Homo sapiens: one gene and its partners. The protein of the gene in region 1 purifies or fractionates together with the protein of each later gene. This does not show direct contact. Each region holds a gene or a part of one and is shown in the gene's direction. Other genes may lie near its edges.

Region 1 (4,020 bases):
GTGCAGTGGTGTGATCACGACTCACTGCAGCCTCGACCTCCTAGGCTCAGATGATCCTCCCACCTCCGCCCCCAAATGGCTGGGACTGCAGGTGTGCACCACCACATCCGGCTAATTTTTTATAGAGATGGGGTTTCGCCATGTTGCCCAGGCTGGTCTCAAACTCCTGAGGTCAAGTGATCCATTGGCCTCAGCCTCCCAAAGTGCTGGGATTATAGGTGTGGGCCACTGTGCCCAACCTGTTTCAAGTTCTTGTCTGCATGTCTATTTCTACGGGAACCCTAACTAGAAACTACATTTTTTTTTTTTTGACAGTCTCGCTCTGTCGCCCAGGCTGGAGTGCAGTGGCGTGATCCTGGCTCACTGCAACCTCCGCCTCCTGGGTTCAAGTGATTCTCCTGCCTCAGCCTCCTGAGTAGCTGGGATTACAGGCGTGTGCTACCACGCCCAGCGAATTTTTGTATTTTTAGTAGAGACGGGGTTTCACCATGTTGGTCAGGCTGGTCTCGAATTCCCAACCTTGTGATCTGCCCGCCTCGGCCTCCCAACGTGCTGGGATCACAGGCGTGAGCCACCGCACCTGGCCAGAAACTACATCTTTTTAAACAAAAATGACACTTACTTACTATATAAAATGTGAGAAAATATAATCAAGCAAAAGGAAGAACATATAACTCATAATTTTATCATTTAGAGAAATATGTATTATCGATATTTTGGTATATTTTCATTTGTGTTAGTATATCTAAAAGGATCATACTGTACATATTTTGTGAGTAAGTTTTAATTATAGGAACAATTATAGCAATCAGAAACAATTTCCTTTTTGCTTTTTCCCCAAATGAAAATTCTTCAGATTTGTTTTCTCCAATAATTCTTTAAAAAGTGTCAGTGTAATCTGTTTTTCTGAGATAACCATTGTTAACTATTCTGTATATGCTTTTTCTGACTACATATTTATATACTATATTAAAATATCAATGGAAGTGTATTTTATATATTATTCTGTAACCTGCTTTTTCATTAGCAATATTATTAACATAAAAAGACGAAAAGCATAGATGTTTATTGCAGAAAAATAAGAAAGTACAGATAAACAAAAAAGAGTATTAAAAATGAAAATTGGCCGGGCACGGTGGCTGACGCCTGTAATCCCAGCACTTTGGGAGGCTGAGGCAGGCAGATCACCTGAGGTCAGGAATTTGAGACCAGCCTGACCAACATTGAGAAACCCCGATTCTACTAAAAATACAAAAATTAGCCGGGTGTGGTGGCTCATGCCTGTAATCCCAGCACTCGGGAGGCTGAGGCAGGAGAATCGCTTGAACCCGGGAGGCGGAGGTTGTGGTGAGCTGAGATCGCGCCATTGCACTCCAGCCTGGGCAACAAGAGCGAAACTCCGTTTCAGAAAAGGAAAAAAAAAAAAAAAAGGAAAATCACATCTATTGTAACAATCCAGGGATAAATACTATTAATTTTGGTGTACCTTTTCTTATCTGTTTGTTTTTTGAGAGAGTGTCACTCTATTACCCAGGCTTGAGTGCAGTGGCACCCTCTCGGCTCACTGCAACCTCCCCCTCTGGGGCTCAAGTAATCCTCTTGTCTTAGTCTCCTGAGTAGCTGGGACCACGGGCACATACCACCACGCCCGCCTAATTTTTTGTATTTTTTTGTAGAGACGGGATTTTGCCATGTTGCCTATGCTGGTCTCGAACTCCTGAGCTCAAGAGAGGCACCTGCCTCGGCCTCCCAAAGTGCTAGGATTACAAGCGTGAGCCACCATGCTGGGCCTTCTTTTTTTAGACTTAAAAAAATTTCACATAAATATTCATGTAAATAATGAGTTTAGGAATGAGATCATACTATATAAACAGTTTTGTTAACTGTCACTTAGCAATATGCTGTGAGCATTTTTCTATAATGGTAAATATTAAGATATTGTTAATGACGATATCAAAACCTTTTAACCAGCTTTCATTTGCTAAAGTTTAGAATGTTTCTTGGTTTGCAAAAAAAATTTATAAATGGTATCATTATAAACATCCTTAGAGTTAAATCGTTGGGTGCATCCATTATTATTTCCTTAGGATACATTTCAAGGAGTAAAATTATTGGGTCAAAGGTTTATACTTTTTTTTTTTTTTTTTCTGAGACAGAATCTCGCTCTGTCGCCCAGGCCTGAGTGCAGTGGCGCTATCTCGGCTCACTGCAACCTCCGCATGCCGGGTTCACGCCATTCTCCTGCCTCAGCCTCCCGAGTAGCTGGGAGTACAGGCGCCCGCCACCACGCCCGGCTAATTTTTTGTATTTTTAGTAGAGACGGGGTTTCACCGTGTTAGCCAGGATGGTCTTGATCTCCTGACCTCGTGATCCGCCCGCCTTGGCCTCCCAAAGTGCTGGGATTACAGGCGTGAGCCACTGCGCCTGGCAAAGGTTTATACATTTTAACGAGTTTGATAAATATTGCCAAATTGCCTGCCAGAGGGGTTTTGCTAATTCATACTTCTAGTAGGGAAGGAAAATTACCTTCTTTTCCTCTGGTTTTCAACAATGTTGTTTATTATAACTAAAAAAAAATCTTATTACCATGGAATTCAATTATAGTACTTGTATTTCAAGCGATCCTTTTGCCATTGACTTTTAACTTTTGAAAGGTTTTTGAAAACTGTGTAATTTGTTTCAAATTTCTTTGCATGTGAATTGTCAAATTCCCCACCACCAGAGGCATCTATGTATTTCCTCTTATTAAGTATTTAAGCATGTGAGGTCTTATCATCCATATAAATTGTAATTCGTGTTCATAAGAATTCCAGTCTGTTTAAGTTAATCCATTTCTCTAAGATGTTAATAATTCATACCAAAGTCTTACCCTTACATTGTACCTGCTGCAGTGAAATATTATCCCCAAGCTGTTTTACTATAACAAGATCGACTTTTCCTACTTCTGATTTTAAATATTTACTTTCTTTCCTTTAAAGGTTTTGCAGATGTGAATGGTTGGCACCTTCGTTTCCGCTGGTCCAAGGATGCTCCCTCAGAACTCCTGAGGAAGTTCAGAAACTATGAAATATGAAATATCTCTGCTTCAAAAAATGAGGAAGAGCAAGACTGTCCCCTATGCTGCCAACATGCAGTCTTTGTTTATGTCTTAAAAATGTCATGTTTATGTCATGTCTGTGAATTGCTGAGTACTAATTGATTCCTCCATCCTTGAATCAGTTCTCATAATGCTTTTTAAATAAGAAAAATTCAGAAGATGAATTTCTTCCAATATTTGAATAAATTAAAGCTCTTAGATACAGAGTAGATTGTATTATATGCTTTTTCCTATTAATACTACTTATAGAAATCCATTAAAAAGCAATCTCTGTACAGTGTATTTAAATATTTCATTGACATACTGTGATCTCTATTAGTGATGGATGTACAAAAAATGTTTTCTTACCCTTGACTTACAATGAAATGTGAAATTACTTGTCTGAACCCCGTGGGGAGAAATAAATAATTTTCCCAAAGTTCATAAATGAATTTATAATTCAATTTTTTTTAGGGTCTTGCTCTGTCACCCAGGCTATGCAGTGGCATAATCATAGCTCAATACAACCTCAAACTCCTGTGCTCAAATTATCCTCTTACCTCAGCCTCCCTAGTAGCTGGGACTAGAGGCACACGCCACCATGTCTGGCCAATTTTTTATTTTCTATAGAGGTGAGGTCTTGCTATGTTGCCCAAGCTAGTCTTGTACTCCTGGCCTCAAGTGATCCTCCCATCTTGGCCTCCCAAAGTGCTCAGAATACAGGCATGAGACACCATGCCCAGCCTTGATGGTATTTTAAAAATAATTTGAATAGATATTTCTAACCTAATTTTAAAAGTTATGATTTATTTGAGGAAAAAAATATATGTATATATATATTTTTTAGATGGAGTCTCACTCTGTCACCCAGGCTGGAATGCAGTAGCATGATCTCAGCTCACTGCAACCTCTGTCCCTTGGGTTCAAGTGATTCTCCTGCCTCA
Region 2 (3,917 bases), on another chromosome or scaffold:
AGTGGCGCAACCTCGGCTCGCTGCAAGCTCCACCTCCCGGGCTCACGCCATTCTCCTGCCTCAGCCTCCGGAGTACCTGGGACTACAGGCGCCCGCCACCACGCCCGGCTAATTTTTTGTATTTTTAGTGGAGACGGGGTTTCACCGTGTTAGCCAGGATGGTCTTGATCTCCTGATCTCGTAATCCACCCGCCTCGGCCTCCCAAAGTGCTGGGATTACAAGCATGAGCCACCGCGCCCGGCCAGTTGATTGTCTTTTAAACATATGTCAACTCAGATAATTTATGAAACAAGGAGGAATATTAATGAATTCATTTAGTTAATTAGTTTATGGTTCATTAGAACATGAGGTTTCCTAATTTTTCTCTCATGTGCCTAATATTTCTAAATTTCACATTTTAAACAGAACACCAGCCTGATCAACACCAAGAAGAAGCTGGAGACAGACATTTCCCAAATCCAGGGAGAGATGGAAGACATCATCCAGGAAGCCCGCAATGCAGAAGAGAAGGCCAAGAAGGCCATCACTGATGTGAGTGAAGGGTAACACAGTGGTGGTCAAACTTAAATCTTAATGTGCTGTCTTAGCTGTCTTAACCCATTCTGTTTTACTGCTAATTAGGCTGCCATGATGGCTGAGGAGCTGAAGAAGGAACAGGACACCAGCGCCCATCTGGAGCGGATGAAGAAGAACCTGGAACAGACGGTGAAGGACCTGCAGCATCGTCTGGATGAGGCTGAGCAGCTGGCCCTGAAGGGTGGGAAGAAGCAGATCCAGAAACTGGAGGCCAGGGTGGGTCTCCTAATCAGCATGTATTTCTATCTCATTCCAATCCAACACACGATTCTGAATACCTAGCACTGCTAGATGATGTGGGGCATACTGAGATGAGGGAGAGCTATTCCCTCATGCCCAAAAGCTCATAATAAGGAAAACTGAACTAGGGCATTAAAAACTACATATAAAGCAGAGTAGAAGAAGTATGTGGGTCATGTGAAGAAGTAGAAATTCGTCAAATGAATGTCCTTAAAATGTCCATCTTCTTGTAGGTTCGTGAACTTGAAGGTGAAGTTGAAAGTGAACAGAAGCGCAATGTTGAAGCTGTCAAGGGTCTACGCAAACATGAGAGAAAAGTGAAGGAACTCACTTACCAAGTAAGGAAAATGGCCTGTCTAGGTTTTCACTTTAGTCCACATGGGATTAAAAGTCATATGTATGACAAAATGTAATATTTGTACTTTCAAGAAACTTACTCTTGAAAACATTATTTCAGACTGAGGAAGACCGCAAGAATATTCTCAGGCTCCAGGACCTGGTGGACAAACTGCAAGCAAAGGTGAAATCCTACAAGAGACAAGCTGAAGAAGCGGTGAGTTCACAACCCCTTGGGGTGATTTTTCTCAGACATGACCAGGCCAGTTTAGTTAAAGTGACAAAAGAAAAGATGAGTAAAATGAGGAAGGATCAAAAGAAAACAAATGGCTACATGGAGGTCCAAGGCTGAGGTAAAACCAACCACCTGACAAGCCAGCAGAAGATGTTCTAGAGATGGGGAAGAGCAAATGCAAAGCTTTTGAGTGGGAAAGAGTCTGGCTCAAGAAGCAGACAAAAAAAGGAGGAAAGCACCACAACTGGGACTGGAGAGCCAGGCAGGAGGCAGCTCATAGGGTCTTCCAGGCCATGGTAAGAACAATAAGGTACTGGGAAGCCAGGGAGGGTTTTAATGTGGGTCAGTCACTACCTGATCTATATTTTTTAAAAAGAGCATTTGGGATACTATGTAAAGAATCGGTTACTGGGTAACACAAGTGGGTGCAGAGAGACATGTTAGGAAGCTTTTCAGGTCGGTTCTGTGGCTTGGATAAGAGAGTGGAGCAGAGAGAAGTGGAGAAATTCAGGACATATTTTGGAGGTAGAAACTACAAGATTGCTAATAGGTTGCACTTGGGAGATGAAAGAAAGGCAATTAAGAGTAATTTATCAAGTTTATGGTTTGAGTAACCAAGTGGATGATGTAACACTTAAGTGGGGAACAAAGGGAAGAACAGAATTGCAGGGCAAGAAAGAAACAGGAATTCTGTTTTAGATACATAATACCATATATACACAAGTGAACATGTCAAGTAAATAGTTAAATATAAGATTCTGAAACTCAGAAGGTCTTGGTTATGTTCAAATCAGTAGATTCTTAACACTCCACTTTATCTCATTTCCGTATCCCATGATTCATCTGGATTAATAATCAAATAGTTTCAACTTCCTACATATAAATATTCATAGTTACATATCACAAATGAGTTCCTCTGTTCATTGATGGTTTTTATTTTACCCCTGACATCTAAGGTAAGAGAGAGAGAAAGATGGGAATGGAGGGGAATGAGGGAGGGAGAGAAAACAAACACACTTGTGTGCACGGACACACACACACGCTACTGTCCATACCTCGGACAAATTGCTTAATCTTTCTCCAGTTCCTACTTTCCTCATCTGTAAGAGGAAAAGCTGAGGTTTTTTCTCAAGCTATACTATTTAATGATTCTAAGCTTTATGTCTGTTCTAAATTTGAATGCCACATTTTGGAGGTTCTTACTGAGACTTTTAAATAAGAATGATTACCAGAGACTAAACTAGAACTGACCTGCTCAAATTCTCTGCTATATATTTAAGTATAATCAGAGACAGCTCAGACTATTTTAGGAAACAAACTTCTTGCTTAATTTCTAAACTTAAGTGGCAATAATTTATACTCACATGGCAATAACTTATATTCAAGCTTAATGGTTTGGTTTGGTATAGATTGCATACTTGCACTCTTAAAAGGTTTGGTTCCATTCTCAGGATTCTGAAAAAAACAAACAAACAAACAAAAAAAAAAACAAAGCTGGACACCTGGCATATTTAGTAGTAGCTCTAGGATGTTCTGCTGTTCTAAAAGTTCAGATACAAAGGTCACCTGTCCTTCCTTGTTATCTATGAGTTCAAGAAGCTAATGCAAAAATAAAAAAAAATAAAAATTCAAGAGCATTTCTCTAGGTTTCTTAAAATATCTGCTAGAGTGAATCATTTTTAAGTAAAAAGGAAATTCAAGATCCACTGACCTAAGAATGGAAAAATTCTGAACTTTCTTCCCTCATAAATGGATTTCCATTCACAGGAGGAACAATCCAACGTCAACCTCTCCAAATTCCGCAGGATCCAGCACGAGCTGGAGGAGGCCGAGGAACGGGCTGACATTGCTGAGTCCCAGGTCAACAAGCTGAGGGTGAAGAGCAGGGAGGTTCACACAAAAATCATAAGTGAAGAGTAATTTATCTAACTGCTGAAAGGTGACCAAAGAAATGCACAAAATGTGAAAATCTTTGTCACTCCATTTTGTACTTATGACTTTTGGAGATAAAAAATTTATCTGCCAAAAACTTGTGAGTCTCTTTTTCCCCTCTATGTCAATTTGTCTTTAGAAGTACTGAGAAAAGAAAAACATCTCAACATTTTGGTTACATTTTACAGAAAAGTGCTTAGTCACCAATATTAAGACATGATAGAGAGCAGCTAGGCAGACCCGGTAAGTGCCACCATATGCGTCCCTATAGGAAGTAGGTGAACCTAAAGGTATACCACAAGCCATAAAACATAGAATATTTGGTAAACCTTACTTGACAAAACATAGCTAGTTTCTGTCAATGAAATTATTGATTTTCTTCATAAAATGATAGGAAATCCTTCATCCTAAGGCTGAGTAAAAATAAATTAAAACATGTTATTTACATAAAATGAGAAAAATTTAAAAATTAGATTAAAGTACTGTCAAAAATATTTAAAATGCAAACTCTTCACTATAACTATATGAACCATTTAATTGGGATTAGAATCCCTTGAGAGGGAAGCATGTTCTGTAGGTTTTCTGGCCCTTTGTAAA
Region 3 (4,681 bases), on another chromosome or scaffold:
ATGAAAAATTAGCCCAAATTATAACAAGAACACAAGCTGTCTGTAGGGGATTCCTAATGAGGGTAGAATATCAGAAGATGTTGCAAAGGAGGTAACAATCATTCAGAATATCAGAATTATAAGGTCCCTTAAGGACTATCAATCAGTCTTGTTCATTCATTAATTCTTTCATTTGGTGGCTAATAGTTCCTCTCACCCAATTCAGAACTCACTCCTACAACACAGCAGCCTTTGCTTCAGCTCTCACACTTGGATTCCTTTCAAAACTTCTCTCCTACCTCCAGCCATCTCACATACAGCCACAGGAATAGTTTGCAGTAAGCAGTATTTTCATCAAGCTAGTTGCTTGCTTGCCTGTCAAGGCCCTCTCTATTCCCCACCTCATCTATCATTTCCAAGCACATAGCCTTTTCCAGCCAGGCTAAACAATTTGCTTATCTACTAATCTCTCATTTGCTTATCTTCTTATCTCATCTCTCCCCTCATCCTAATTTATCTATTTACCAATTTAAAACTTTAATTTCCCCTTTCTGTAACTAATCTCACCCAGTTTATCTACCCAACACTATTGCATTCCCTCTACTTACACACACACTGTGCATTCATTTTTCTTATCTGTAATCATTTAGGCCTGCACTGGAAGTGTTCCTGAGTCTTTCCCATGTGTGAACGTTATGGTTTGTGTCAAGGTATCTGCTTTCATAGAGTTACAAGTCTTAAAAACTGGACCTATAGAGATAGAATTTCCATTTTAACAAGCTTGAAGAAACATACACATTGCTACAAGTAGTCAAACCTAGCCAGTCTATGGCTATAGTTTGCAGTAGGGGTACCTTTTATTACTATTTTTCACTTTATTTCAATAAAATAAATTTTAGAGCTCAACAGATGCTGAATGCCTCGCAAATATTAACAATCCAATTAATCAGTTAAGACTGAGGCACTTGAAAGAATTTGAGATAAGCCAGTGTATTATCTGAAGAAGCTAGCAAAAAAAGTTTATAGAGTGGATAATTCAGTGTTGTTCAAAATAAGAGGAGCAACTTCAAGGAAGAGATGACAAATCATTCGCTCAGTTTAGGTGGGCCATTCAGAAGGCAACCTATGTCATTTCACAGTTCTCATCCATATGCCCACAGACAGGCAGCACAATCAACATGCAATCACCATGCCCACCCTCAAATCACTAATACTGTCATATGTCAAATGGTATGTGCTGATCATACATTCAAAATATTCACCCCTAAAGTCACTCTCTTGGCTAGTTTGATAGGGATTGAGAACACAGAAGATGTGCTCAATATGAACCGTACTCATATTAGCAAAGTGGTTATACTGAGGGCTACTGACCATGAGTGTGAGCGCGAGAATGTGTGTACATGTGTGTGTGTGTGTGTGTGTGTGTAAAGCCTGCATATAATATATAGAGAATGTGACATATTTATTTGTGAGCGGCATTCATTAAAAGGGAAATTTGTGTGTGATAAGTAACAATAACATTGGCTCTGATGGATTAGTCTACACTGATATTTTCATGTCATCGCAGAGAAGCACTTTTCTGCATCCAGTATAATGTCCGTGCCTTCATGAACGTCAAGCACTGGCCCTGGATGAAACTCTTTTTCAAGATTAAGCCCCTCCTCAAGAGTGCAGAGACCGAGAAAGAGATGGCCACCATGAAGGAAGAATTCCAGAAAACCAAAGATGAACTCGCCAAGTCAGAGGCAAAACGGAAGGAGCTAGAGGAAAAAATGGTCACTCTCTTAAAAGAGAAAAATGACCTGCAACTCCAGGTTCAATCTGTGAGTACTCCATATTCTGAATGCACCATGTTACTGAAGCTTTTTTGAAACACACATATACTTTGGATTTACAAATGATCTCTACTTGAAAAAAAATCTCAAGTTGCTGTTTTTAATACCTCATTTATCTTTTAGTATTCTATGGGGAAGAAAAGGCACAATTATTTCCAAGTTACAATGGGAAAAGGAAAGATTGAAGAATTTGTTTAAATAATATCACAAAATTTAACAGCCATGAAGGAAGTAGCTTAAAGCCAATCCCCCAAGTCTCAGTCAAATATTTTACCCCTTTGCCTGGGCTACTTTAGCCCAGCATTAAAAGTATAGCTCTATTTTCTAAATGCAAGTCTATGAGATTGTATTTAAATTCAAACTTATTTATTTCTGTATCTCCTTTCCCCAACCCCCAAGATTTAGCTCAATAAATCTATCTGTATTTAATGGAACTGAACTACCAGCATGTCAGGCAGAGCAATGTGTCCTCCTGATTCTTCCTCTGATACAAATCTCTAGTTCCTAGAGTCTGTTTATTGGTGCAGGAAGGAGGGGCAGTTGGGGTGGGGAGTAGGTTTGGCATGAACACTTTGGTCAAAGGTAACCTCCCATTTCCTTGGTTCAGCAAACCTAACAATATCATAAACTAACCTGTGAAAAGGATAGTTTTCCCACTTTTTTTCAGCAACTTTCAATTTTTCCTTCTGATACCTTCATTTATATGAAGGTTACATTTTTCCAAAAGCACAGGACCATAGCCTCTCTATCTTACCATCTTTTCACAGTTATCATTAGTCAGTGAGTAAATATGTATTGAGTGTATCACTATTAAAAATAAATATATTAAGCAGTAAAGCTCAAAAAAAGAAAAAAGAAAAGAATCCCCCAATAAGTTCCCATTATATTCCATTTAAACGTTTTTTAAACTCAAGAACAAAACAAACACTGGGAGTTAAAAAATATTCCCCAGGCCAAGGTAACCTAATAAATTAGACTGGATTGATTTTTATTTGAATCCTTTCATTAGTCACTTATAAAAACTTTATTGAGCTATACAGTTTCTGAGAATTACATTTTCTCATATATTCTAAAATTCATTTTGATAATTATTGGGAGAGGGGAGAGGGCCACAAATGGAATGGACAAGGCAAATGTGGCATAACTTAGCAACTGGTAAATCTAGGTTCATAACATATCACTGTTCATTCTATTTTTTTTTCCTAACTTGACATATGGGTTTGAACATTTTCAAAATTTCAGGGGCTCAACATAGACTTTCCACATTAACCAGATTTAGAAGGGAATGGGAAAACAAAAGCAAACAAAAACACAAAAGCAGAAAGGGCTAAGAACAGTTCATCAATCTTTCCTTAACTAGAATTGTCCTGGGCATGAGAACCTCTAGCCTAGTCAATGGTACAACTCTCTGAAAATTATGTTGCAGTTTAGGCCTATTGCCCATGTTGTGTATAAAAATGAAACAATGAAACCACAAAACTTAAAGAACATTTTTGTTACACTGGGGAAATCTGAATATAGACTGTATATTAGATAATATTATTGTATCAGTGATTAATATTTTCATTTGTAATAACAGTATTGTAGTTATATAGGAGAATGTTCATGTCCTTAGGAGAGAAATGCTAAAATATGATATCTGCCATTTACTTTCAAATGATTTAGGAGAGTGTGTGTGTGTGTGTGCGTGCACATGTGCCTATATATGTGTCTATGTGTGTGTTTAGAGAGAGAAAAAACAGTAAAATGTTAAAAATACGAGGATTTAGGTAAATGGTATATGGCAATTTATTGTATTATTCATACAGCTATTCGGTAAGTTTAACAGTTTTCAAAATAAAAGTTGGGGTAAAAGTTCCAAAAAATAAAATTCACCTTAAGACTAATGGGTAATTCTGTAAATGGAAATGTAAATTTTGAACAATTATAGCACTGTATGAACTACCAGGAAGGTTTTAGTGTATTAAAAAATACTACATGGAAATGTATTTAAATTATTTTTCTTCTTTTTCTTTCTTCAATACAGCCTAGCAATTATTGGTTTGAGGGGGACAGGGAATGATCAAAACCAAAACTAACCAATTTAACTAAATCAAAATCTTTAAATATTACAGCTGAAAAGCTCTTGGCAATCATTTATTCCAACCCATATATATATATACACAAAATTGAGAATGAAAGGAATAAAGCAATTTGCCCAAAGTCATACATATGCAAACAATATTGGGACAAGAACCCAGGCTTCCTTTTGCCCGATTTAGAGGTCTTTCCACTCTTCTACAAATTATTTTTTAAATAATCAATAGCTCCAATCCAATAACTTTGCAAACTAGTTTGCTTCTAAAGCTATAGTCTCACTTCCAATAAGCTGCATTTCTCCAGACCATGTAATAATGTTCGATTAAATTAAATTTATATTCATACTGAAAAATTCAACAGAATTCAATAAAACACTATTATTTTTGCGCAAAAAAAACACCAAGTTTCAAAATAAGTAACAGACTCTAAGTATCTGAATGAATCTCTCCATAGGAAGCAGATAGCTTGGCTGATGCAGAGGAAAGGTGTGAGCAACTGATTAAAAACAAAATCCAACTTGAGGCCAAAATCAAAGAGGTGACTGAAAGAGCTGAGGAGGAGGAAGAGATCAATGCTGAGCTGACAGCCAAGAAGAGAAAACTGGAGGATGAATGTTCAGAACTCAAGAAAGACATTGATGACCTTGAGCTGACACTGGCCAAGGTTGAGAAGGAGAAACATGCCACGGAGAACAAGGTATCAGTCATATTTTACAATACTGTATAGAGGTTCTGCCACCAACTAAATTGCTTTATAGGAGAAATAATCTCTTTCTTAACCTTTGTAGG
Region 4 (4,681 bases), on another chromosome or scaffold:
ATTATTATTGCAGAATTTTTTTTTTCTTTTGTAACTGAACAGGCCTTAAGGTACTCAGTTGTTTCTCATAATTCCTTTAATTACCAGGTGTCCTTGAATGCTTATCATGGAATGTGAGATACTATAATTAACATATTTTGGTTTTGGAATATCCACTCCACCTGTTATACTAGTGTTCTTGTGGGAATTTTATCAGTTATATTTGGGGAAAGCACATCCAGTTTTCCGTTTGGACATTGTTAATAAATCTGAGGTGGGTTTTTCCCATACTCCTCATGCTAACTTTGTGGTATACTTTTGGTTTTAAAAAATGTATCTTAGTGTTTTTTTTGTTAAAATAGCTTTCTTTTATTAGGGAACTTTTGAGAAGTTAAAAATTCTGCTTCTGAATTGTATTTGAATAGTATGGGCTTACAACAAAAACCAGATAATTCTTGCTTCTATTCTTTTTGAATATTTTTCCCCTCTAATAAAGTACTTGATTCGAATACACTTCCTTTTTGAGTGAAATTTGTTAATTAGAATTAATAAAGCTTCTTTACTAGAGTAAGATTAGTTTGTGTGTCTTCAAAATATAATGCTTTTTTTCTAAAAAAAAAAAAAACCTCTCAGGATCTGAAAGCATTAGTTTAAATCACTGTATTACGTATAAGAAAAACCGTAATAAAGGCTTTTTTCCTGGATGAAAGATCTGGTTGAGATTTGCAACTTTACAGTAAACACCCACGTCTCTTGTGGGTTGGTAGTGGGATTAATTTTATGTTCATTGATACCAGCAATTTGAAAGAACATCTGTGTCCTTTGGGTTCATGTTAAATTTTTTTTTTTTTTTTTTTTTACTGTTTTAAACAGTGGGCAGATTTGCATAGTAAAGGATTTTACACTCCGATCATGGTAGATTACAGTTTAGCTCTTTCTAGATTTTATTTTGGTTAACTCAGAAAATGCATAATGCTATTTTAGGGAGCCAGAAATCACATAGGTTACATTAAAGATAAATGATTCTGGTATATATAATGTAGTATATAACCAAAACATTGTTCAGGTCTTTAGAAGAAACATTAGAAGAAATAAAATATCATTAGAAAAGTTTAATACTACAGTTAGCAAAATGTTATTTCCCTTGAAGTATGACTTTAGGCAATATTAATTATATCACAAATTTATAAGAGGCTGGAAATGCAAGATTTACATCTGAGTTTTTCACCTTTAATTAAAAATATTCTCTGGGTCGGGTGCGGTGGCTCACGCCTGTAATCCCAGCACTTTGGGAGGCCGAGGCGGGTGGATCACGAGGTCAGGAGATCGAGACCATCCTGGTGAACATGGTGAAACCCCGTCTCTATTAAAAATACAAAAGGAATTAGCCGGGCATGGTGGCGGGTACTTGTAGTCCCAGCTGCTCGGGAGGCTGAGGCAGGACAATGGCGTGAACCCGGGAGGTGGAGCTTGCAGTGAGCCGAGATCCCGCCACTGCACTCCAGCCAGGGCGACAGAGCGAGACTCTGTCTCAAAAAAAAAAAAAAGTTATTTGTTCACCTTTTTGTTTTGCAGGAAGAGAGGCTTTTGACCCAACTCTCCTTTTTATTTAATATTTATACTTTTGAATATTTTTTGTAGAGACCGGGTCTTGCTGTGTTGCCAGAGCTAGTCTTGAACTCCTGGGCTCAAGTGATCTTCCTGTCTCAGCCTCCCAAAATGCTGGGATTACAAGTGTGAGCCATCATGCTGGACCTCCAACTCTCTTTTACTTTAAAAAAAAAAAAAAATCCGGTTTAAAAGTTGTTCTTTTTTTGTTTTTTCGTTTTACAGACAGGGTCTTGCTGTGTTGTTCAGGTTGGTCTTGAACTCCTGGCTTCCCAAAGTGCTGGCATTACAGGCTCATGCCACCACACCCAGCCAAATGTTACTCTTGAAGAGAAACAAGTTCAGAATATTTCTGAACTTTTTAATACAAGCAAGAATTCATAAAATAAATTTTCTTCATTATTAAGAAGTCGCACATGACAATTTATGGTTACAAATTTCAAGACTGCATTTTTCCAGTTAGAAACATTTAAAAATTTGATCGATAAAGGAATATTGTTAAAAAGTTCTTTTGTTGGCCGGGCGCCGTGGCTCACACCTTTAATCCCAGCACTTTGGGAAGCCGAGGCAGGTGGATCACCTGAGACCAGGAGACCAGCCTGGCCAACAAGACGAAACCCCGTCTCTTCTAAAAATACAAAAATTAGCCGAGCGTGGTGCCTTGCATGGCTGACACAGCTTACAGAGTTTGTTTTGTCAGGGTTTCAAATGAGTGGTTGATGACTACATAACTTAATGTATGTCATGAAATTCTTCACAATGAGTACATGTAGATGCATATAGCTAATAGGTACAATAGTATTTGCCTGTGTTTGATGGGTTTTTCACAATCGGTTTGTAGTTAGATTATTGTATTTGCATTTTTGTTGGACACTTACAGAAGATTAAAGATTTGTCAGTATCATCAGAGGATTAGAACTTTCCAAAGTTTTAGATCATCTAGTTCAATTTCCTCTTTTTACAAATGAGAAACCTAGAGCTTTGAGAGGTTAACTGTCATGCTCATAGTGTCACAGCAGAGATAGCCTGTAATCCACATCTAACTCAAGAGTTCTTGCATTTTCCTTCCTAATACCATGGGAGGAAAAACAAAAAAAGGCCATCTTACCTCCAGTCTTGATAACTTACTGTATAAACCTTTTTGCATGCCAAAAGTGCATTTATACCAAAAAAAAATATGGAAAAGGGAAATTATCACATATACAGGACATTTACAAAGTGGGAGTGCAGGACTGTAGATTCTACTACATGTAGCTGCTGCTTTTCTTTTTTCTTTTCTTTTTTTTTTTTGAGATGGAGTTTGCTCTTGTTGCCCAGGCTGGAGTGCAATTGTGCGATCTCAGCTCACTGCAACCTCCGCCTCTTGGGTTCCAGCGATTGTCCTGCCTCAGCCTCCTGAGTAGCTGGGATTACAGGCATGCACCACCACGCCTGGCTGATTTTGTATTTTTAATAGAGATGGGGTTTCTCCATGTTGGTTAGGCTGGTCTCGAACTCCCAACCTCAGGTGATCCACCTGCCTCGGCCTCCCAAAGTGCTGGGATTATAGGCGTGAGCCACCTTACCTGGCCATGCTGCTGCTTTTCATCTGTTTTTTTCTTCATCCTCACTGTCAACACTTTTGGCCATTATTTCTGATTTGGATAGTAGCTGGTTGGTCTCTCACTATAGTCCAAGATCCAAATTGCTGCTAGTGTCATTTTCCTATAAAATCAATCATGTCATATCTCTTTTTGGAAAGCTATACGTTTGCTATGGCTTATACTATCAGATCCAATCTCATCTCTTTCTCTTCTCTCCTTGCATGATTCATACTTGAGACTTAGATCCAATTTTAATTCCTTAGTTTGTCATGTAAAGACATTTACATTCAGACCCTGAAGTCTGTAGTCTTTATACCTGCCACCATTTCTTTTTTCCAGTTGCATTTAAGCTATATACTTCTGTAGCATTGAACTCGTATTTTCTGGTACTTAAGTCCTTTCATGTCTCATTTTCTTTGTTCTACATTCACTTTAGAATGGTGTTGCTGTGCCATTCTTCCCTCCCCCTTTTCCCTTATCCTTACAAACCTGTAAAACTCATACTTCAATACCCAACTCAAATAGCTTTCCTCCTTGAAGCCTTCTCTTAATCACTCGGTGTACTCCTCAGCTGTGTTTCTACCCCTTTGTTCTTACATATGTAAAGTCACTGTAAGTGATACTAATATGCCTCATAAATTACTAGCTGCAAAAGGATCATCATTCTGTCCAGTGCCTTGTACAGAGTTGGTCACATAATACACAAAATTATATTCAATTAAAAATGCCTTTAATTGGTAAAGATGCTCCACTGATTTTAAAAGCAGACCAAATTCCTTTAAAAACGCAAGTTTATTTACTTTTCTTAAAAAACGAAGTTTTTAGTAATTGCTTTGAAAGCCTGAAATACAGTAATGTTATATGAAATAGGTGGTTAGATGTAAATACTTCTAATGTATTTTTTCTAAGAAATGTACTGCTTTTCCAAACAGTTGATAAATTTCTTTTTTCATTTTTTTCACTTGAGACTGTCTCACTCTATCACCAAGGCTGGAGTGCTGTCGTGCAGTCGTAGCTGACTGTAGCCTTGAACTCCTGGGCTCAAGTGATCCTCCTGCCTCAGGCTCTTGCGTAGCTAGGACCACAGATGCACGTGCTGGCTAATTTTTGTTGTTGTTTTGTAGAGACGAGGTCTCACTGTGTTCACTGTGTTGCCCAGGCTGGTCTCGAACTCCTGGGCTCCAGTGATCCTTCTGCTTCAGCCTCCCAAAGTGCTGGGATTACAGACATGAGTCACTGTGCCTGGCCCATTTCTTTTTTTTTTTTTTGAGATGGAGTCTCGCTGTCTCCCAGGCTGGAGTGCAGTGGCGCAGTCTCGGCTCACTGCAAGCTGCGCCTCCTGGGTTCATGCCATTCTCCTGCCTCAGCCTCCCGAGTAGCTGGGACTACAGGCGCCCACCACCATGCCCGGCTAATTTTTTTTTTTTTTTGTATTTTTAGTAGAGATGGGGTTTCCCCGTGTTAGCCAGGATGGTCTAAATCTCCTGACCTCATGATCCACTTGCCTCGGC

The links. Proteins that work in one complex are often made in the same cells at the same time.
Region 2: the proteins of DNAJC12 (region 1) and MYH1 purify together in Homo sapiens (affinity purification with mass spectrometry; one large-scale study listed by BioGRID and IntAct). This does not show direct contact.
Region 3: the proteins of DNAJC12 (region 1) and MYH8 purify together in Homo sapiens (affinity purification with mass spectrometry; one large-scale study listed by BioGRID and IntAct). This does not show direct contact.
Region 4: the proteins of DNAJC12 (region 1) and CDK19 purify together in Homo sapiens (affinity purification with mass spectrometry; one large-scale study listed by BioGRID and IntAct). This does not show direct contact.

The regions. Positions count from the first base shown.
Region 1 is NC_000010.11:67,796,169-67,800,188, reverse strand, and holds the end of DNAJC12 (dnaJ homolog subfamily C member 12), read left to right. Parts: intron 1-2,978; coding exon 2,979-3,073; 3' UTR 3,074-3,520; downstream 3,521-4,020. UniProt on the Homo sapiens protein: Probable co-chaperone that participates in the proper folding of biopterin-dependent aromatic amino acid hydroxylases, which include phenylalanine-4-hydroxylase (PAH), tyrosine 3-monooxygenase (TH) and peripheral and neuronal tryptophan hydroxylases (TPH1 and TPH2).
Region 2 is NC_000017.11:10,491,807-10,495,723, reverse strand, and holds the end of MYH1 (myosin-1), read left to right. Parts: intron 1-406; coding exon 407-532; intron 533-622; coding exon 623-793; intron 794-1,050; coding exon 1,051-1,155; intron 1,156-1,274; coding exon 1,275-1,370; intron 1,371-3,155; coding exon 3,156-3,308; 3' UTR 3,309-3,417; downstream 3,418-3,917. UniProt on the Homo sapiens protein: Required for normal hearing. It plays a role in cochlear amplification of auditory stimuli, likely through the positive regulation of prestin (SLC26A5) activity and outer hair cell (OHC) electromotility.
Region 3 is NC_000017.11:10,401,451-10,406,131, reverse strand, and holds part of MYH8 (myosin-8), read left to right. Parts: coding exon 1-91; intron 92-1,546; coding exon 1,547-1,802; intron 1,803-4,346; coding exon 4,347-4,589; intron 4,590-4,680; coding exon 4,681-4,681. UniProt on the Homo sapiens protein: Muscle contraction.
Region 4 is NC_000006.12:110,808,970-110,813,650, reverse strand, and holds part of CDK19 (cyclin-dependent kinase 19), read left to right. Parts: intron 1-4,681.